Regions from separate parts of the Homo sapiens genome. Here region 1 is linked to region 2. Evidence: fine-mapped expression QTL. A gene starts in region 2. The other region holds a variant in brackets. All regions are shown on one strand. Distances are between the middles of the regions. Region 1 overlaps NLN (neurolysin). Region 2 holds the start of PPWD1 (peptidylprolyl isomerase domain and WD repeat containing 1).

Region 1 (10,927 bases), 170 kb after region 2:
TGACATATTTCATTATACAGTATCAAACAATCACTTTCCTTAATGTCTTCCTATTTAGTCGGAAAAGTCTTCAAGTATTGGGAAGCTGTCAAGCTCACAGTGGCAGATAGGATTTTCCAAAATTCTAGTTTTCACTTGAAAGCTAGAATTTTATCATTGGTAACACAAACTGTCAGTTGTTTTACTTGAAGTGACAATCTCACTTTGTTACATTTTTGACAGAATTTCTGCCACATACTTAAGTCTGAATAACCCTGGTTTGTCTGTCAGTAGTTTTTTTCTGGTAAAAATGGTGTTCCATGGGCTGGGCACGGTGGCTCACGCCTGTAATCCCAGCACTTTGGGAGGCCATGGCAGGTGGATCACGAAGTCAGGAGATCGAGACCATCCTGGCTAACACGGTGAAACCCTGTCTCTACTGAAAATACAAAAAATTAGCCGGGCGTGGTGGCGGGCGCCTGTAGTCCCAACTACTCGGGAGGCTGAGGCAGGAGAATGGCGTGAACCCGGAAGGTGGAGTTTGCAGTGCGCCGAGATTGTGCCACTGCACTCCAGCCTGGGCGACAGAGCGAGACTCCGTCTCAAAAAAAAAAAAAAAAAAATGGTTTTCCATGAAAAAAATCTATTTCAGCTCACAGTTCAACCAATTGCAAAAGTGCTTTTGATTTGGGCAACCAAATCCTCAGGACAACCCTTATACTCAGGTACACAGCAGAAATGCTTTGTGTGTACTTGGTCACATATAACTCAAAGGTAGAGATTTAATAAAAATTCATACTTTTTACCATTTCATTAAGGATATTCTAAAATGAAATTGACATTATTTTTAGCCTGAGTGCATGGCAATGAAAAATATAGCTACTAGTATAGTTTGGTGTCATTGCCTCAATTTGTGCTGAAGTACCAACAGTATTATCCACCATTCCTTTTCGCCATCAGTGCAAATGTTCATAAAGTAAAAAGGATAAATAATGTCTTAGTATTGTTATGAAAGATTTTTAACCTCACAGATTCCTTGAAAGTGTCTCAGGAACCCCTCCCCATACCTCTACCTTTAAGGTTTGTGGACTACATTTTGAGAGCTGCCGATATGTGGTATTAGATTCTTTGTTTATGCATGGAAGAAAATAAATATACTAATAGCCAAAAAATTATTACCTTGTTAGAAGCTACCATAAATATATTAACTAATTTGTTACATAAGGGCATATCTTACAGTTAATCATCATATATGGTAGTCCTTAACCCAGGGCTTCCTTGACTTAATCACAGAATCTGCTCTGTTTCAAAATCAGTATCTTCCAAAAGAGTTCATATTAGACAACATGGAGGACCCCCTGTGTTCTCCTGTTTTTCCTGTTTCCTCTGACACTTGGGAGTTCATTTTAGTGTTATGGAGTAACTAGGCTTTTGCCTAACTGACTTACAGTTTCCATTGGGTTTTCTTGTTGGCAGAGCTGCTATATCCCCTTCCCAAGGCCAGCTTCCAGCTAGGATCATTGATTGGGGTGTTCAGCCAACTTCTTGGGAATAAGTGGACTGAGAATCTGGAGTTTGGATTATAGTTGCTGTTCAATTCACTTTGTGACCTTAAAAAAATCACTCACTCCCTTGGACCTCTTTCAAGTTATGTACCTATGTATGTATGTATTTTAGAGACAAGGTCTCACTCTGTCATCCAGGCTGAAGTGCAGTGGGGCATGATCATGGCTCACTGCGGTCTCAAACTCTGGTTTCAAACAATCCTCCCTGCCTCAGCCTTCTGAGTAGCTGGGACTACAGGCGCTCACCACCATGCCCAGCTAATTTGAAAAAATTGTTTGTAGAGATAGGATCTTGCTATGTTGCCGAGGCTAGTCTAGAATTCCTGGCCACAAATGATCCTCCCATCTCAACCTCTGAAAGTGCTGGGATTACAGGAGTGTACTATCATGCCTGGCCCAGGTTCCTTATATTGTAAAATGAAAAGGACTAGACTAAATAATAGCTAAGGCCTTAAAAAAAAAACAAAAAGCAAAAAACCTCTATATTGCCATAGCAAACCAGGAGAATTCCTCCTCCTACCTCAGATTGTACAGCATGTGACCCAAGCAAAGCCTAATGTATATTATAGAATAAGAGGGATGAGTGACATGGTCAAAGAAACAAACGAGAAGGTTGACTCAACAATATTTAGCCGAAACAATAGCTGTAATAGCCTAGCTTCCTCTTGCAATTAGAAAAGACAGCTTGGTTTGTTTTTTGGTTTTTGTTTTTTTGAGACAGTCTCGCTCTGTTGCCCAGGCTGGAATACAGTGGCATGATCTCGGCTCACTGCAACCTCTGCCTTCTGGGTTCAAGCAATTATCCTGCCTCAGGCTCCTGAGTGGCTGGGATTACAGGTCCCCACAACCACGCCTGGCTGATTTTTTGTATTTTTAGTAGAGCTGGGGTTTCACTATGTGGGCCTGGCTGGTCTTGAACTCCTGACCTCAAGTGATCTGCCCACCTCAGCTTCCTAAAGTGCTGGGATTATAGGCGTGAGCCACTGCACCTGGCCTAAAAAACACAGCTTGGTTTTTTAAAATGATGACAGCAATGCGTGTTCATTATTGAAAACTTAGCAAGTAATGACAAGCAAAAGAAAATATTAAATATATATATAATCCAGCCACCTGGAACAGCCAATTCTTAACAGCTTTCAAAATTTCCTCTATGAACAGACTTTCTTTTTATAAATATGATATTGTTATTCTTTTATAATTTTTAATATTATACAAACATCCCCTAAAATATAAATAGCTATAATATATTCCTTTTGGGGATGTATGCAATTTGATTAATATACGCCTTTAGAAATGTCAACTATTCCCAACTTCCTGCAATGAGTAATAGTGCTTGGATAAACATTCCTATTGTCCTTTTCCAAATCTTTAGTTATTTTCTTAGTATAAATTCTTACAAATGGAATTTGTACATCAAAGGGCATGCATACCTTTCAGGTCTTTGGTACTTATCATCTTATTCTATTCTAAAAACTTTCTCCCAAATTATAACCTTACCAGGTGAGTAAGTAAATGCTGGTTTCCTATACTGTTACCAACATTGAGCATTTTAATTTTTTTTATCCTTACCAGTTTGATAAGTGGAAATTTCTCTTATTATAATTTGCATTTTCATACATTTTTGGAAGGTTTATTCAGTGAGTATAATTCCTAAACAAAAATTCAGGAGTTGTGGTCTGGAAACCAAAAAGTTATTTGTTGTCTGATGTGAAAATTTATTTATATGGAAAATCTTAGAAAGTCAGACAAATTCAATTACAGTTTTCTTGGTGTTTTTGTTTGTTTGTTTGAGACAGAGTCTCACTTGGTTGCCCAGGCTAGAGTGCAGTGGCATGATCATGGCTCACTGCAGCCTCGACCTCCCGGGCTCAAAC[G/A]ATCCTCCCACTTCAGCCTCCCGAGTAGCTGGGACTACAGGTGTTTGCCACCACACCCGGCTAATCTTTGTATTTCTTGTAGAGACAGGGCTTCGCCATGTTGCCCAAGCTGGTCTCTAATTCCTGGGCTCGAGTGATCTGCCCGCCTCAACCTTCCAGAGTGCTGGGATTACAGGCATGAGCTACTGGGCCCAGCCTAAATTACAGTTATTAATAAACTTAACAATATTTACAGGTCTAAGTGTAATTAAATAAAATTGAGATTATTCCTCTAAAACCAGTAGGCATAATCTCCAAAATGTTAAGAGAACAGTATTGGGGAAAAAAATCTAGTAAAGAAAGGGTTTTTTAAGTTAAAGTATCAAGAGCTAGGTTGACATTATTTGTACAAATGGATTTGGTTATAAAATAGGTTTTCTTTTCTTTTTTTTTTTTTTTTTTTTTTTAGGATGGAGTCTTGCACTGTTGCCCGGGCTGGAGTGCAGTGGCACGATCTTGGATCACTGCAACCTCCGCCTCCTGGGTTCAAGTGATTCTCCTGCCTCAGCCTCCGGAGTAGCTGGGATTACAGGCACCTGCCACCACGCCCAGCTAATATTTTGTATTTTTAGCAGAGACGGGGTTTTACCATGTTGGCTAGGCTGGTCTCGAACTCCTGATCTCATGATTCACCCGCGTCGGCCTCCCAAAGTGCTGGGATTACAGGCGTGAACCACCGTGCTCCGCCGAGGATTGATTTCTTTCTTTTTTGTTTGTCCTTTAACCCTGGTTTTGGTCAGAAGCAACCTGGTTCTTTCTCAGAGTTAAACATTATCACCTCTTTGGTTAAGACAAAGCACAGGACTTACTTGGGAAGAATCCCCTGAATTAAAGATATGAAGAACCAAGGAAACTGATGTGTATTGAATACATATGTAAATGCCAAGCTGCCGCATTGCAAAGTGCATGTAGCATCATAGAGTCGACTATATAAATCTAGAAACAGCTCGCCTGAGTTTGAATGCTGGTTTTGCCACTGACTAGCATTGTGATCTTAGGCAAGAATACTTAAGTTCTCCGTATCTGTTTCCTCCTCAGTAAATTGATAATTGATTGGCTGATTTCTTCATTCACCAAATATTTATTGTCTATTATATGCGAAATAGTATTCTTGGTCTGGGGATATAGCAATGAACAAAGCAGATAAAAATCTTTGCATTAATGGAACTTACATTCCAGTGGGAGAGACAACTAAGGAAAATATAAAGTAAGTTAGATGGGAAAATGTGCTGCAGAGCAAAAGTAAAATGGGAAAGGGGAATGCTCAGTACCGATAGGAAGGAAATTGTAGAGTCAACAGGAAAGGCTACCAAGAAAGTGATATTAATACTTGAGTAATGATCTAAGAGAAATGAGCAGTTGTGCTATGTGAATACCTGAGGCAGGTCATTCTAAGCAGGAGAAACGGCACACACCAAGGCTCTGAAAGCAGGGCTATGCCTGGTGTTTTTGAGAAAGTAAAGAGACCATTGTGACTAGCATGGAATAAATGTCAGGCAAGTAAGTAGGAGATGAGACAGGGAAAAATTGGACTCATCCTTTTTTTTCTATTTTCTTCTTTTTTTTTTTTTGTTTTATTCGTTTGTTTTTAGATGGAGTCTCACTCTATTGCTCGGGCTAGAGTGCAATGGCGCAATCTCAGCTCACTGCAACCTCCTCCTCCTGGGTTCAAGCAATTCTCCCACCTCAGCCTCCTGAGTAGCTGGGATTACAGGCACCCGCCATCATGCCCAGCTAATTTTTGTATTTTTTGTAGAAACAGGGGTTCACCATGTTGGCCAGGCTGGAACTCTTGACCTCAAGTGACCCACCTGCCTCTGCCTCCCAAAGTGCTGGGATTACAGGCGTGAGCCACCGTGCCTGGCCTGTACTCACCTTTTAAGATTGAAACAAATATAGAACACTTTGAACATTGCCTGGTTATATCCATTCCTATTACCACAAAAATGCTGTATAACAAACTGAATTTCAGTGGAGTACAATGATCAATGTTTATTTTTGCTGACAAATCTAGATTTTGGCTGGGCAGTTTTTCTGATCTTAACTCATTCATGCTCCTTCAGTCAGCCATGGGTTGTGTAGGCAGCTCTGCTGATCTCTGCTATCCTCTCTCACATGTTTGGTGATGTAGGATGGCCACAGCTGGGGCTATTTGGCCCTCTTTCCTGTGACGTCTCGTCCTCCAAGAAGCCACCTCTGGCTTGTTCTCATGTCAGTGGCAGGGTTCCATGAGAGAGTGGAAGGCAGTTGGAACTGGAACCTCATTAGCTCTGCCACATTCTACTGGTCAAAGCAAGTCACAAGGCTAGCCCAGATTCAAGAAGTGGGGAAACAGACTCTATCTCTTGATGGGTAGAACAGCAAACTCACATTGTTAAGAGACATAGACTCATAGCAGGTAGAAAATTGAGGCCATGTTAGTTATCAGTCTACCACATCGGCACATAATAAAATCTCGAGAAATATTAGTTACTGTTTTTACTTGTGTGAATTGCCTAGTTTTATTTTGGGATTTTTAAAATTAGGATTATTACTTTGTAAGAGCCCCTCATAGATGTTTCAGTTGTTTTTGATCTTTGAACTTTTGGGGTAGATTATTGTTGCTTTTTGCTTTTTTGCTTTATCCCTACAAAAGTTTAAATTTTTATACAGTCAGAAATATCAGTCTTTTCCTTTATGATTTCTGCCTTTGGTCTCATTCCTAGAAAGTCCTTCTCCACCCCAAGATTATGTATTTTAAAAATCACCTACATTTTCTTTTTTTTTTTTTTTTTTTTTTTTTTCAGACAGAGTCTAGCTCTGTCACCCAGGCTGGAGTATAGTGGAACAATCTCATCTCTCTGTAACCTCTGCCTCCCAGTCTCAAGCAGTCCTCCCACGTCAGCCTTCCAAGTAGTTGGGACTACAGGTGTGAGCCACCACACCTGGCTAATTTTTGTATTATTTGTAGAGACAAGGTTTCACCATGTTGCCCAGGCTGATCTCAAACTCCTGGGCTCAAGCAATCCTTCCACCTCAGCCTCCCAAAGTGCTACGATTACAGGCATGAGCCACCACACCCAGCATCTACATTTTCTTCTAGTACTTTTATGTTTCATTTTTCACACTTAAACCCTTTATCTATCATGAGGGCTGACTTTTTTAAAAAGACTTCTTCAAATTATTGAGTGAAACAAAAAGGAAATCAACACCGAAACTGCAAAACTGCAAGAAGTATAAAAGGAAGTCCAGCTTATGAAATCTGGATTTCCCGTTCACCATAGCTTACATTAGAAAGACTCTGCCCAGAGGGATGGCCCGGGCCAGATGCTACAGAGAGAGACATGCAGGGAGCTAGTTAGTCAGGGGTTCAGATCTAGGGAGGGTGCATTTGTGAATTCCTTTTTAGGAAGTGTGTTTGAAGTTAATATGATGAAACTTACACTTCATATAGAGGAGAGTATGAAAGAAGGGAAAGTGCATCAAACCTGTGCGTTTCACAGTAGAAGCTCCGTCCTCACAGCTTAGTAAACACCAATGATCCTGTCTCTAATTCTCTGTCTGTAAAAGGTTCTTTTGAACCCCAGGAAAAGTAGTTGACATGAGAAAAGCGTGCTTCTTGGACAGAGGTGAGGGAGTAGGCAGGAGAGTGGTATAAAGTGATAGGTGGTTTGCAGACGCGGGCACGTCAGGGAACCTTTGCAGACAGGTGGCCCTAGCTGATGTCCCTAGACCTTGCTCAGTTGAGTTCTTTGTGCACATCTCCCACTGGGCTCCTCTGGCCCAGAGATGAGGTTGTCTGCTGAAAGATGCAGTAAAGAGGCTTTAAAGATTTTGTGGCCTTGAACCAATCACACAAGCAAGGCTGAAAGGACTGAGCCTAAAATGGAGCTGCCCCTGAATGATCTGAGTCTTCATCAGGCAGCACCTTGCACACAGACCATCATCTGATGATGGGAACAAACTTGTGTTTGGGTGAAACAGGCTTCCCCATTGCAGTTACTATAACACCTGTGTGGTAGTAAGGTGCAGAATTACTCAATGCCCACTTCAAGTTTACCATTGAGATGATTTCCCACCCCCCTCCTCTAACTGGCACCATTGCCCATAACTAATTTCTTGCTCTCCCCAGGTGCCTCAAGAACCTCTTGGGGGCCTTTATATTCTGTCATGCTTACCTAGCTGATCGGGACATGGAGTGTCTGTCTTAGTAACCAAGCCTCAGTCAGCTAAAGGAGCTGCATCTGATTCATATCCTAATGTGGACCACCAATCTTGAGCCCCTTGGAGCTCTGCTAGAGAAAGTTGCTGCTACTCTCGAGACCCTCACGTTAAAGGACTGTCAGATCCAGGACTCCCAACTCAGGCTCCTCCTGCCTGCCCTGAGCCACTGCTCCCAGCTCACCACCTTCTACTTTCATGGAAACGAGACCTCCATGAATGCTCTGAAAGACCTGCTGTGTCACACAGGCGGGCTGAGCAAGTTAGGCCTGGAATTGTATCCTTCCCATCTGGAGAGTCTTGACAACAGGGGTCATGCCAATTGGGAGATCCTTGCCCCAATTCGGGCTGAGCTGATGTGTACAGTCAGGGAAGTCAGGCAGCCCAAGAGGATCTTTTTTGGTCCCGTCCCCTGCCCTTCCTGTGGCTCATGGCCATCTGAGAAAGTGGACCTCCATCTTTGCTCTTAGGGAAGGCCTGATTAGTGGGATGGATACGCTTTCTTCTGGACCCTTGGGCACTAAAATCTAGGACACAGGTGCTTTTTTTTTTTTGATGGAGTCTCGCTCTGTCCCTCAGGCTGAAGTGCAGTGGCACAATCTCAGCTCACTGCAACTTCCACCTCCCAGGTTCAAGTGATTCTCCTGCCTCAGCCTCCCTAGTAGCTGGTGTTACTGGCATGCACCACCACACCCAACTAATTTTGTATTTTTTTTTCTTTTTTTTTTTTGAGACGGAGTCTCGCTCTGTCACCCAGGCTGGAGTGCACTGGCACGACTTCGGCTCACTGCAACCTCTGCCTCCAGGGTTCATGCCATTCTCCTGCCTCAGCCTCCAGAGTAGCTGGGACTACAGGTGTCCACCACCACACCCAGCTAATTTTTGGTATTTTTAGTAGAGTCAGGGTTTCACCAAGTTAGCCAGGATGGTCTCAATCTCCTGACCTCGTGATCCACCCGCCTCGGCCTCCCAAAGTGTAATTTTTGTATTTTTAGTAGAGACAGGGTTTCACGATGTTGGAGGAGGCTGGCCTCAAACTCCTGACCTCAAGTGATCTGACTACCTTGGCCTTCCACAGTGCTGGGTTTACAGGCATGAGCAGCCTGGCCCGGTCAGGTGCATCTTAAAGGAAGCACACGGTCATGTGTTTCAGGCACGTGCTGACTGTGAGTGGAAAAACAAAGGTGACTCAGCTGGGGGCAGAACTGGGTGAAAATGCTGACTTGGCATCAATAAAGCCTTCAGGGACCTGTTTCCTAGACTCAGAAATGGAACCTGAAGTTCTAGAATGATGCAGGAGTTACCCTCGCACGGATGGTTATTTAAAAATGTCAAAAATAAATGGAACCTGAATGGAAAAAAAAAAAAAGAAAGACTCTGCCCATTCTGCCCACTCTGAGATTGTCTATGCTTCCTGTTTGGCATTCAAGAGGAAGTCCTCATATTTCCCAGCCATATTTTGCTGGTATCTTTAATATTTAATCCCACTTGTGGTCAACACCGAAAGGAAAATTCTATTTCTGCCTCACATCTCAGGTGGAGTTGTAGTGACTGAAATAATCACAGGTTGATGAAGCCTGCTTGCTACAATGTATAAGGTCCATACTGTCAGGGCTACATAGATCTAACTATTCTAACACTGAGATTTATACATCTATACATTATTTTTATTCTCATAGGAATTCTTTTTAAGGTTTCGTAGCTTTCTCCTCTGCCAAGATACAAAATAGGGAACCACAAATTATTTATTTAAAAAAGAAATAGATGAATGATATTAGATTCCAACTACCAATTGGACAGCTCCTGAGGTCTCACAGTCAGCCACTTTTTTATCTTATAAGTGATATGGTTTGGCTGTGTCCCCACCCAAATTGAATCATGAGGCAGTTACCCCCATGCTGTTCTCATGATACTGAGTTCTCACAAGATCTGATGGTTTTATAAGGGGCTTTTTCCTCTTTGCTCAGCACTTCTCCTTCCTGCCACCACATGAATAAGGAGGTGTTTGCTTCCCCTTCTGCCATGATTCTAAGTTTCATGAGGTCGCCCCAGCCATGCTGAACTGTGAATCAATTAAACCTGTTTCATTTATAAGTTACCCAGTCTTGGGCATTTCTTCATAGCAGCATGAGAATGGACTAATACAATAAATACTTATTGAACACCTATTATGTTGTTGAATCTCAATATCACCTTTTCCTAAATTGACGGAATTCCCCTGGCTTGCTTTTTTGCCATTGTTCTTTGCCTCAGTGTCACCATTTACGCAAGTCCAAAGCCTAGGAGCCATTCCTTGCTTTTTTCTCTATTTCCTTTACCTTTTCCACCAACACCAAGTCCTGGATAGTCTTCACATTCTTTCTCCTTTCTTTGTTCCCAGTATCACCATCATAATCCAAATCTTCCTCATCATGAGTCCCAGCATCAATTTTTGCTTACCACTAATATATTTTCCTTATGAAAATAGAGATCTTTAGGAACTACAAATGTGACATGTCATACTTCAGTTTGCAATTTTTCTTTACTTGTCATTAAACAATCAAAACTCTCTTGTGGTTTAGAAATCCCTATACAGTCTGACCCCTGTGTAGCTCTCCCAGCTTCTCCTCTCACTCAGTGAACTCAATGCTTCAGCCAGAGAGTTTATGTCCTTATCTCCTGGCCTTAAATTAACATAAGCTGATCTCTTATTTGGAACATTCTTTTCTTTCTCTCCCATTTCCAGAGCCTAATACTTATTCATTTATCTTAAGAGTTATGAAATATTATACACAAAAAATGTAATGCATATACGTATATACATGTGACTAAAAGGATGAAAAATGTGTCAATATATAAAATGATATTTCTAGTATGAAAAATATATCTATATGTAAAATGATATTTCTAGTACCGTTGAAGTTCCTTGAGTGCCCCCTTCAACCATGTCCCTTTCCTCATACCAGAGATAACCACAGTCTTGAATTTTGTAATTGCTGTCCTCTTGCTTTTCTTTATAAACATTACAACAAATGTATATTTCCCTAAACAACATATGATTTAGTTTTGCATAATGAAACTAGTTTCACATGGATATGGTTCATTTTTACTGTTGTAAGATATTTCATTGTGTGACTATTCCAAAAATTTACTTTTTATTTTGTCAATGAATATTTGGGCTTCCATTTTCTTGATATTACAAGCAATATTGCTATGAATATTCTTATAATGTCTCCTGATACATATGTGTAAGAGTATGAATTTAAGAGAACAATTACTAGGTTGTAGGAT
Region 2 (12,628 bases):
AATAAATGGAAAGATACTTCATATTCATGGACTGAAAGACCCACATTGTAAAGACGTTAATTCTCCCCCAAGTTGAGCTACTGAATCTTAACCAAAATCCTGAAAGTTTTTGTTTCTCTTTATGGGACTTGACAAGCAAATTGTAAAATTTACATGGAAGGGCCGGGCGCGGTGGCTCACGCCTGTAATCCCAGCACTTTGGGAGGCCGAGGCGGGCGGATCACGAGGTCAGGAGATCGAGACCATCCCGGCTAAAAGGGTGAAACCCCGTCTCTACTAAAAATACAAAAAATTAGCCGGGCGTAGTGGCGGGCGCCTGTAGTCCCAGCTACTTGGGAGGCTGAGGCAGGAGAATGGCGTGAACCCGGGAGGCGGAGCTTGCAGTGAGCCGAGATCCCGCCACTGCACTCCAGCCTGGGCGACAGAGCGAGACTCCGTCTCAGAAAAAAAAAAAAAAAAAAATTTACATGGAAGCACAAAGGGCCAAAACTAGCCTAAGATCCTCATGAAAAATAAGATGGGAGGACATACCCTACACTATTATGGCAATGTAGAACTGGCACATAAATAGGCAAATTGAGCAATGGAACACAATACAAAGCCTTTCTTGACTTTCTATATTCACATACATATGGACACATGACACATGACAGAGATGACAAGGCAAATCAAGGAGAAAAAAATAATCCAAATAGATATATATTTTATATATAATACTGTTTTTTAAATGTATATTTTGGTCCATATAAATCTTCCTCATTTTTTTTTAACATTTATAGTATTTGCGGAGAAAAAAATAAGTCTAAATTCATACCTGAATCTTTATGTCATTCCTCACTCCCTCAAAAAACCCAAAATAGAAATCACAAAAAAATAGGATGAAAACACAGAAACTTTTAAAATCTTAGATTAGGAAACACCTTTCTAAGCAAAACTAAGTAAAATCTTTACACCAAAATTTTTTTTTTAATTCTGCATGGACAAACATCTCATCAACAAAGTTAAAATTTAAAACCCCCAAACCTAGGAGAAATACTTGTAATATATATGGCAACCCAAGACCTAATTTCCTTAATATATAACAAGTGCCTACAAATTCATAAGAAGAAACCAAACAACTCACCATTAAAAAAAATTTAAAAAAGATTACCAAAAAAGTCAGGTTACCAATTACTTTGGAGGAAGAGTGGAAGGGGGAAAAGGGTTGTGGCTGGGATGGGCCAAATGGAGAGATTTCTGAGGTAATTATCAAAGTTTTATTTTTTGACTAGCATGATGGTAAGGGTGTTCACCTCATAATAATTAGTAAACTTTACGTTTATTTTGTGTCTGCATTTTTACAATAAAAAGGTAAACAACAAAAACAATTCAATAGAAACTGGCAAAGAACACAAATGAGGAATTCAAAGAAAAAACAAATACCTTTTAAATACAGAAAAAGTACATTCATAAGCTCATATATAATTTATGAAAATCCAAATTAAACAAGCATTAATTTTCATTCAGAATGGCAATAATGTAAAATTGGTAAGAGATAATACTGGCAAGCATGTGAAATAAGAGGCTTGCACTGTTGGTGGAACAATCACTTTGTATGATAATATCCATCAAAATTTTACATGCATTTCTTGTGATCCAGAAGTTCTATTCTTAGGAATAATCCTAAAGATAGATATGTCTGCATAAGTCTATACAATTATGTTTACTGGCACATTACTTAGAGAAAAAAAAACTTTAAAGGTATGAACTCTGCAACCAGACTATACAGGTTTAAATCTGTTTTGATATTTAAAAGCTATGAGACTTGGGCAAGTCACTTAAACTTTCTATGCCTCAGTTTCCTTTCCTATAAAATGAAGATAATATTAAATACTCCCTAGGGTTATGACAATTAAATGAGTATATAAATATATATATATAAGTACTGTAGCTAGCATATAAAGAGCTTTATCAGTGTTAGCTATTAACAATTTGAATGTCAACTAGTAGAAGGCTGAAAATCTCACCTGCTATACCCATAAGATACAGTTTAAGTTCACAAAGCCAAAATCAGTCATCATGAATTTTAGAATATTTTTAAGCGAAAAAGTCAAACATAAATATTTCTTTACTGACCACCAAAATACATTATCAATATGCAAAAGTAATGCAAAACTCTGCACATGTGGTGGGGGCGGAGGGTGAGGGATAAATATTCAACAAATTATCTGGCTTGGCGATTTAATGTGGCAGTAGAATAAAAACATATAGAAACATTTAAGAGTTTGCTCTCTACCGCTTGAGGATGCAAGATGTAAGCTGTATGTAACCTGGAAGAGGGTCATCAACAGAACCAGAAAATGATGGCACCCAGATCTTGAATCTCCAGCCTCTAGACCTGTGAGAAATAAATTTCAGTTGTTTAATTAAAACACACACACACACACACACACTTAAGAGTTGAACTTTTCCCGTTCCCACATTTTGTATCCTTAAACCTATCTTCCTGGAAAGGGAACAAGTCAACTTTTTGAGGTCCCCAGTTAGGACTACAATACTTAATCATTTATTGAAGAAAAACAGTATCTCTTTATTTAGGGATAATACTATACTTAAAGAAACTCGTACTATTAATTGGGAAAAGATTAATATACATGAAATAAGCAAAAAATACCCACATAATTCTAAAATACATTCATTTATTCAACAAATATGTTAATGTGTGCCATTGGTCAGACACTGGCTTTAGCTGTGTAGATGAAAAAGTCTTTGTACTTGTAGAGCTTCCATTCTCATGCAGACAATATAAATGAATGGATAACTAAATACATGATATGATTTCAGGTAGTCAGAAGTGCTATGAAATGGTAAAGTATACAACACTGCCTGCAAGTACTATCGGAATTCAGGATAGGGAAGCTTAGAAAAACCAACCCGGAAGGAATTAGTCCATAATAATGCTTAATAAATGTTAACTAGCTACATTATTATTATCATTATCATTATCATCTTCATCCTCATTATTGCATTGGTCTCTGAAAGATGAGAAGCTGTAAACATGAAGGCTAAATCGCTGTGGAGATGCTTTCAAGCATAAAAACATAAGAGTAGGAGGCAAGAACGAACAAGGGAAATTTGTGAGACACAAAAGAAAGTAGTCTGATGAGAGCAGAGGGCAGAGAAGAAATGAGACTTGCTAGGTAGAATGGTCAAATAATGGGAACCTTTGAAATAAAATAAAGTGCCTACTATGGGGGGGCAGTTCCTTCCCTGTACGTGGTGCCTATCTCAAGGCAAAAGTAGAGAAGAGATTTACGACGAGGATTTTATTAGGTTGGTGCAAAAGTAATTGCAGAGAAAAAAGAAGTGTTTTACGGAGGTCATTTTGACAAGCTGTATTTGATTTTTTAAAAAAGAGATTAAGATAATACATTTTATGTTATGTGCTTTTTACCTAATTTTTTAAAAATGAAGAAGACAGATGAGGAGGAGGAGAAAGAGTTCAGATGACTGCTAGGAGATGAAATCCTATACCAGAGAGAAGAAAGAAGAGTGACCCGTTCTGCCCTAGGTCTTTTGGTTATTTGAAGTAGCTGCTTCTCCACCCCACCCCCAGAAACAGTAACAAGCACTCACCACCTTCTTCAGAGAGTGTGTGAGAGAATAAAGGTCAGGAGAGAAAACATGTTTAGTGCATCTGAAAGGAAACCCGCGAGTTAACCACTTCCTTCTGTCCCCACCCTTCCATCTTTCTCTAAATATTGGTGAGGTTATGGAGCTTGCGTTGGCGCGCGGGAAGCCGAGAAGAACGGGACTCAAAGCCCGGCTGGGAAGTCAGGTATCTAGTTGGCCGGCGATAAGGGTTTCACCTTCAGGACTGGAGCTCCACAAGATTCAACCGTTATATCAACCTCCCCGGCCCAGGTCTTACCATCACAGCGTCACAAACTCCAGGTCGCCTAGGCGCTGCGCAGGAAGCGCTTGCCAGCCCCGGACTTCTGCGCGCGCTGCATGCCCATTGGATGTGCTCATTCCCACCCCAGCCAATCCCGAAACTCGCTCGGACGCTGACAGAAGACTGCGCCGCTGCTTTGGGATTGGTAGCTGAGTTTTGTGTCGCGCCTTTTCTGACGATGCGAACAACATGGCGGCGGAAAGTGGTAGCGATTTTCAGCAGAGACGTAGAAGGCGCCGGGACCCGGAGGAACCGGAAAAAACAGAACTCAGCGAAAGAGAGCTGGCAGTAGCAGTGGCGGTGTCCCAGGAGAACGATGAGGAGAACGAAGAGCGCTGGGTTGGACCTTTACCTGTGGAGGCAACACTGGCCAAGAAGAGGAAAGGTAGCTGCAGACATAGTACCGGGACGAATTGGAGTGCTGCGTCCGCTGAGTAGGAGGGTTCAAGCCAGATCCGAAGAGGGATGATGTGTGGAGTTTTGTGCCCTCAGAACAGAGGGCCGTCCTCTCACTTCTGGCTACTCCATACTTGCATGTCTTAACGAAATAGTGATTTAAGCGTAGTACAACGTCTTTTTGATAATATCTAACACTTTTGATCATTGATTTGTTATGACAGATGCTAAAACTAACATTTTCCTATTCTTATGTGTTTGGCTCCTCTCATTTACTCCCCACAGCAGCCACATGAAGTTGGAATTTCGAACTCTTATTTAGGTATGCAAAAGGGTACCAGTTCTCTTTAAGGCTTTAGTTCAGGAGTGGTGTTAATGTATTAATGTGTTGGGGCGCGAGAGGAAGGCGGTGCTTATTTCGAATCATGGTAGGTAAAGATAATTTCAACTCTGACACTTCCACTAATAAATTTTCGCATCTAGGGAAAATGACGTAAGCTTCCTAGATCACAGATTTGTTTTCATCCAAAACCCGAAGTCTGTGGTTTTGAAATCACGCTCTTGATACGATGGGCTGAGTCTTTTTGTCACTAACGAGGAATAATCACAAATTATTATCAAATAAAAGGGGTGGGAAAAGGGGTAGATTAAGTTTTCTTGTCTTTGTTGTTTTGTTATCTTGTTTTTCTGTGAAATGTTTTCCTTAAGTATTTAAGACATTTTAAATGTGGTCTAAGCTCAAATCGTACTTTAGCACCTTCCCTTAAAAAACTTCAATGATTTGTCATTATTTTCTCTCTCTTTTTTTTTTTTTTTTTTTTTTTTGAGACGGAGTCTCGCTCTGTCGCCCAGGCTGGAGCGCATGCAGTGGCGCTATCTCGGCTCACCGCAACCTCCGTCTCCGGGGTTCAAGCGATTCTCCTGCCTCAGCCTCCCGAGTAGCTGGGGCTACAGGCGCACGCCCAGCTAATTTTTGTATTTTTAGTAGGGACGGGGTTTCACCATGTTGGCCAGGATGGTCTTGATTTCTTGACCTCGTAATCTGCCTGCCTCGGCCTCTCAAAAGTGCTGGGATTACAGGCATGAGCCACGGCGCCCAGCTCATTATTTTCATTAAAGCCCAAACTCCCTCACATGGCATATAAAGCCCTTTATGATGTGATCTCTCCTTACCTTCTTAGTGCATCTTCCATTACCTTCCTCTCCCAACCCCTTACTTTGTACTCCACCCATTCTAAAATCACTCGAGAATCGGTCTTGTACTTTTTTTTCCTCTGGATTCCTACCCAGATATGGTGTTTCTACCGGGAATAATTTCCCTCAACTCTTCCACTGAACTGACTTTTGGTCAACCTTTAGCACTTAGCTATCATCTTCTCTGGGAAGCCTGTGACTTCTCCAGTCTGGACTGGATTTCTGAAGCACTTTGATCATAACTCTGAGGTAGTTATATATCAATACTGAATTTACAGGTAGCCTTCAAATTTTATGTATCCAAATTTTGAAGAAGCTGTTTTTTTGAACGTTGTATATTGACACCCTTACAGTGCATTATCATTTTTACTTCCTGGTCCTCTTATTAAATGTTTCCATAGTAACCATTTTATTTATGGCACTTGCCGCAGTTTCTAATTATATATTTATTCATGTGATTGATGAATGTTTCTCTCCACTGCTAAGACTGTAAACAAGTAAGAACCAGAATCACGCCTTTTTTGTTTCATTGCTTGGTGTACAGTGCTTTGCCTAAGTATTTAATGACTGCATATTAAAGCTTTTATGCTGGTCTTTAGCTATTTTGTTGCATATGAATATTTTTGCAAGTTCTTTTTTAATTAAACGAGTAAGGAGAAATGTAAAAATCCAGAAATATCGAAATGCTGATATTAGTGTTACCGGACAAGTGTCTTATAAACTTAATATAACGGAGACAGATATAAATTAGTAGGTGTGAAAATCTTTCCTCTTAATCAGTTATTTATTGTTTTAAGACAGCCAATAGTTGGCCGGGTGTGGTGGCTGATGCCTGTAATCCTGGCACTTTGGGAGGCTGAGGCGGGCAGATCATCAGGTCAGGAGTTCTAGACCAGCCTGACCAACATGGTGAAACCCCGCCAGTCTCTACTAAAAATACAAAAAAATTAGCCGGGCGTGGTGGCGCACACCTATAATCTCAGCTATTCAGGAGGCTGAGGCAGGAGAATCACTTGAACCCAGGAGGCAGAGGTTGCAGTGAGCTGAGATTGTGCCACTGTACTTCAGCATGGGCAACAGAGCAAGACTCCGTCTCAAAAAAAAAAAAAAAAAAAGCCAATAGTTTATTCAGTTTGAAGAAAAAAATTGAAACTAAAAAACATACATAGAATGTTACAAAAATATTTAAAATTTTGTCTAAATGGACAAGTATTTAACAATTTCAGCTTTCTAGAAATGGAGTCACCCCCTTTAACATGTTCTTTGGACATTGGACTGTTGTATATATTTTCAGAAAGACATGATTATATAGCACTATATCTCTTCAGGACAGGAACTGTGTTTTACTCTTCTTTATGCCCATGTGACCTAGAACGTATTGTGTTCTTAGTAAGTATTTGTCCACAAGTGAACTATCACACAGAAAAAGGAATCTGGATCAGATAGGATTAAGTTTATCTACATACTACAGAAAAACCCAAAATAACGATGTTGAAGAGATAGAGCTGTACTTTTATGTGTAGAAGTACCAAGACAGGCAGGCAGTCCAGGATTGGTGTGGAGGCTCCAGAAGTTCCTAGGCTCTCTCCAGCTTTCTGCCCAACATAACTAAGGTACAGCCCTCATCTTCATTTCTCTGAATGATTATTAAGATTACAGCAGTTATATCCCAGTTCCAAGCTATAGGATTGAGGAAAGGAAGAAGGGTACACTTTTTCAAGACTTCCTGTGACAAAACATTTCCACTTTTACTCATTAGCATATGGTTAAACCTCACTCCAGGGGAAAGTGAGAAAGGTCATGTTATATCTGGACATCAGTATGCCCATATATAAATGGGGGTTCTGTTCCTAAAAATGAAGGGAAAAGTAGTTTATCAGACACAAGCCTGAAACAGCTCGTCATGTTTAATTTAGCAACTTTTTTTAGGCACGTTTGGTCATCGTTCAGTTATTTTATTTGGGATACATATAATTCTCCCCTCCCCTCGTTCCCTCCTTCCTTCCCTTCTTTCTCTTCCTTCTTCTCTCCCTCCCTCCCTTCGTCTTTCTTTCCCTCCCTTCTTTCCTTCCTTACTTCCCTCCCTCATTCTCTCCATCCCTTTCTTTCTTTTTTTTTTTTTGCTAGTAAAATTGTTCATACCTCATATAATAAATCAGTATTTCCTGACATTCCTCAGATTACTACTCTTTCAGGTGGATTTTTTCCAGGTTTTGCCGTTGGAAAAAATTTGAGATACATTCAACTGGATACTCCCTAGGATGTTCTCAGGCATAAAAATCTAAGAATTTTACCATGTTTAAATGTTTCAAACACAGTGTCAATAACTTGAAAGAGAATCAGTGCTTTAAATATTAACTGAGACATCTTACAGATGGCCACTGGACTCTTTTAAGTTAGCACTAAATTATGTCTACAATGTTAGGAAGATGGTTGTGATATTTTCATGGAACTTTTTAATTTTTTTTCCTTTTTCTTTCTTTTTTCTTTTCTTTTTTTTTAATAGAACATTCACATTAAGCCAGAAGCACTCATTTCTTAAGTCCTGGGGACAGTTAGCATGTATATAGTACCTGGGAACCTGTTGTAACTGACTAAATAATGACGCTATTCAGTGCTCTGAAATAATAGACGTTAAAACTGAGATAACATACTGGATTTTTTAATTGTGAATTGAGAAAAACTAAAATCCAGGAGAAAATACCAAGTAGAGTGTAGACAATTTTAAATAAAGAAAATACAAAATAGTATTTGGTTTATTTGTTAAAAATAGATCTTATACTTTACTTTTTTTTCTTCAGTCTTAGAGTTTGAAAGAGTCTATCTTGATAATCTCCCCAGTGCATCCATGTATGAGCGCAGTTACATGCATAGAGATGTTATCACCCATGTGGTATGCACCAAGTAAGTCTATCACATCTTTTTTACTTTGTTCTGAGTTTATTTAAAAAAAAAAAAAGCTTCAATTTTGAGGTAGATTTATAGAGATAATTTTAAGATTTTGTAGATTTTTAATTTCTTAAGTTCTGAAATAAAGGCCTACATGTTCTTTCCTATATCGTACAAATAATGCATTCTCTAAGATAGAACCCCTGAGTTTATATGTATGTCTTTGGAGATAAATGCCAAGAGGGGAGTGAACCAGGTAGTGTCTGAGCTTCCCTGAAGAAGAGGGTACATTAGTTAAGATATGAGTAACTGGTACCTGGCCTCTTTGGCACTAGTGGAGAAAATGTGGGCTAACATACCCTAGGAATAGCAAAGGACCTTCAAAACAGATGAGTAGGTTCGTGTAGAAGGATAATAATAGTACAAGTTGAGCACCCCAAATATAAAATGCTCCAAAATCCAATAGTTTTTGAGTGCTGAACATGATACTCAAAAAATGCTCTTTGGAGCATTTGAGATTTTCTGATTAGGGATGTTCAACCAGCAAGTATAATGTAAATATTCTAAAATCTGAGAAATTGAAACTCCAAAACACTTCTGGTCCGATACATTTTGGATAAGGGATACTCAAACTGTAGTAATATTCTACTGTTTGTTGAGCTTATAGTATGTCCCAGGTACTATGCTAAGGCTTTTTCTTTTTTTATCTATCAAGTTAAGGCTTTTTCATAAATTTTCTTATTTATCATAAGGATAATCTTGTGAGTTAGTACATGCTCTTCATTTTAGAGATGACGAAACTGAAGTTTAGAGAGGTTAGATAGCATATTAGGCTGCTATTTAAAAGGCAAGGGCTAAATCCTAGAAGACTTTTTATTTCTTGTACGGGTTTTGAACCTGTGAGCAGGAGAGTAACATCATCAGATTTATTTTTATTAAAGGACCACCCTGGCTGTGGTGAGATGAATGGATTCAAACAGGGCAAGAATGGATACAGGGAGATAAGTTAGGAAGCTGGTATAGAAATCTGGATGAGATATGGTGGCTTGGATGATACTAGCAGTGAGTATGGGAAGTAGGTGGATTACTTTACACTTTTTTAGATCAGTCTATTCTTGATGTCTTGAAGACAAATTTAATTTCATATATAAATCTAAATAAAATATTTATATTTCATGTAAAATAGGATAATTCTGACCAAATATTAGCACCTTTTCTAGTCTCAAGTTATCAGTGTGGTAAAACAGTATATATATACATATTAGCATTGCTGTCACTCTCTTCTCAAATATTTTTGTTTTGTTTTTTTAACCCAAGACAATGGAAGGTAATACAGAGAATATAGGTTTTGTGGTGTGGTAGATTGAAAGCCACTCTAGCTATATGGACCTGAGGCAAGTACATTTAACATTTTAAAACTATTTCCTACTTATAAAATGATGATAAAAATACGTAGAGTTGCTGTAAAATTAACTAAGGTAATATGTACAAAGTACCTGACATATACTGGGTTTCCATAAATGATTTCTATTTTTACATACCTAATAGGAAAGATTCTTCTGTACAAAATCTTTTTGATACTTAAGTAACCAAAATACCTTGTATAGGATATAAAAAAAACTTTTGTTGAATTTTGTTGCGTATGAAAGTAGTATGTTTAGATTTACTTATCAGCTACTGACAAATAGTTTATTTTCTTGTGAAAAGACTGTCTGTAGGGTAATTTTAGCAATAAGGAATCCAAAGTGTAGTGATTCCTAGTGAGATTTTTATTTTAATGTCAAATTCTAGTTCAATTCTGATCCTAGCTCTTGAGGTTAAAATTAGTACAGCTGTAACTGTTTTGACATCCAGAAAGGAGTTTCAAAATTTGCAGTGTTCTGTAATATAGTGGTCTGCTTAAAGAAGGGTTTTTTTTAAAAAAAAACCTATTATGCACAAGTCAGATTCTTAGTGAATGATTGCTTTGGGAATACTAAGTGATTCATAGATCTGTCTTAGAAATTAACTTTTAACATTTCATATATGCAGAACAGATTTTATTATTACTGCCAGTCATGATGGACATGTCAAGTTCTGGAAAAAAATAGAAGAGGGAATTGAATTTGTTAAACATTTTCGTAGTCACCTGGGTAAGAATTGCACCTCATTTTCTTGTAGCTCTTTCCTAAACTATACTAATTAAAGTTTAAATTTTTTAAATTTTTTTTCTTTGAATCATGCACACTTATTTTACTGTTATTTACTAGAATGTTTTAATTTCATTTATTGAAATAGGAGTTATTGAGAGTATTGCAGTTAGCTCTGAGGGAGCATTGTTCTGTTCTGTGGGTGATGATAAAGCAATGAAGGTGTTTGATGTAGTGAACTTTGACATGATCAACATGCTGAAACTTGGGTGAGTCTTTTTAAAAGTATATATATTTTAACTTATTGAAGTAATTTGTAAATCAGACTTTACCATTTAATAGGTTATTTCTAAATAGTATATTACCATATCTTTAAATAAAATGTGCTGTTGGGTTTTGCTTGGAAAATTAGATACAGTGAAGCCTTATAATGTTTGGAAGCATCTGCTATGATTTGTTATCAATCACAGAAATTTCTAAACAGCATCATAACAAGGATTCCTTATATCCAAATTGACATTACTTAGTAATATTACTGGAGCTCTGTCATATCTAATTACTGGTAGTTACAGTTAACTTCCTTGCTTTACTTATTTCAGTAATATAGAATTGAGTTCCTATAAGATTTATTCACATTTTTGGAATTAAAGCTATTTATTGGTGACTTTAAACTTTGGAATATATTGATACTAAAACTATGGTTAGATTGTACAGTATTAAGACTGATACTTTGTTTTAAGCATGTCTTTTTTAAGATAACATAGAATTTATACACATCTAAATGAATGTCAGCTTGAAAGTCATAACAGTGTCAGAAAGTTTTGGGACTCGCCTTAGTCTGCTTGGATGCCATAACAAAAAAACCATAGACTAGGTGACTTAAATACAGAAATCTATTTTCTCACAGTTCTGGAGGCTGGAAAGTCCAAGATCAAGGTTCCATCAGGGTTTGATTTCTGATGAGGGCTGTCTTTCTTACTTCTCCCTATGTTCTCCCATGGTTGGAGGAAGAAGGAAGGGAGAGGGAAGAAGGAAAGGGAGATCTTTTTTTCTTCTTATAAGGCTACAAGCCCATCAGATTAGGACCCCACCCTGACTCTTATGAGCTCATTAACCTTAATTACCTCCTGAAGACCATGTCTCTAGAAATTCCAACTGATGGAATTCCAACTGTGGGCTGAATTATGCCCACAATTCAAATAATTTCACATCTTAGAATTTCCTTCAAAATCAGTTTATGACTTTATGAGCCACTAAAGGAAATAAATCTCATTATTTATGGTTAGAATGGCACAAACATACCTGTCTTGATCACCTGTCCTACTCCCCAGGTTTGTTTCCTCAAAGCTTTCCATTCACAGATATTGAATGTTTGCCCTTTGAGAATACTTGGAAGAGTATATTTCAGACTTTGATAGAAATTCTTGAAGAAGAGGTCTGGAAGGTTTTGAACATCAGCACCGTGGTTAGAATAATAGTGTCACTTCTCCGAATCTCTACTTTGAAGGAAACAACATTCATTTTTGAGTGTTTTAGTACAATTGATTAGATCAGTCTGAATTCTGTTATGCCTTGTTCATCAGGTAGAATGTTTAAAGCTTTGAGTTTTAATATCAAGATTTAGTTAGTAATGAGAGTGTTTTAGGACAGTGTTTTTCTTTGACGTATTGTCATAATAAAATATTTGATTTAAATATTTCAAGAAAGGATTTATAAAATACACTATTACATGCTAATCTATTTTAAAGTAAGTTATACATAGACTGTTGTACAGAGATCCAAAAAGCAATGTCCCAGAAGATCTTAAGGTCCAGATCTGATTAGGTTTCCTTATCTGCCCAAGAGAAATAAGTGTGCTGCTATATGCAGTTCTTTTCTTATGTTTTGACAGATCCTTAGAACTATCATTATACTGATGAGGTCAGAAAGAGAAAAAATAAGTAACTATTCTTAGCTGTTCCTCCCCATTCTGTGTCTCTGCTACTTTTGAGCAAGGAATCCAAAACTGTCTAAATCACCAGCCAAGACATTTTTGGTAGTGGGATAGGGAGGGATGCTTGCTTGTTGTGCTGACCTTTTTTTTTCC

The links.
Region 1: its variant is fine-mapped to the expression of PPWD1 in blood mononuclear cells (TOPMed, PIP 0.92).

The regions. Positions count from the first base shown.
Region 1 is chr5:65,725,529-65,736,455 of GRCh38, forward strand. All of the region lies in intron 1 of NLN (neurolysin), which reads left to right. It also overlaps the pseudogene LOC100419549. Among named protein-coding and RNA genes, the nearest start is that of NLN, 8.8 kb to the left of the region's middle. RefSeq lists a silencer at 1,777-1,826. The variant G/A (reference allele first, on the strand shown) is at 3,419.
Region 2 is chr5:65,559,188-65,571,815 of GRCh38, forward strand. PPWD1 (peptidylprolyl isomerase domain and WD repeat containing 1) reads left to right here and starts at 4,109. Exons shown (of 11, transcript NM_015342.4): 1 at 4,109-4,319; 2 at 8,326-8,428; 3 at 10,445-10,545; 4 at 10,691-10,811. The coding sequence starts at 4,124. CENPK (centromere protein K) reads right to left here and starts at 3,981. Exons shown (of 11, transcript NM_022145.5): 1 at 3,911-3,981; 2 at 2,276-2,377. RefSeq lists enhancers at 267-766, 3,236-3,897, 3,618-3,757, 3,898-4,558.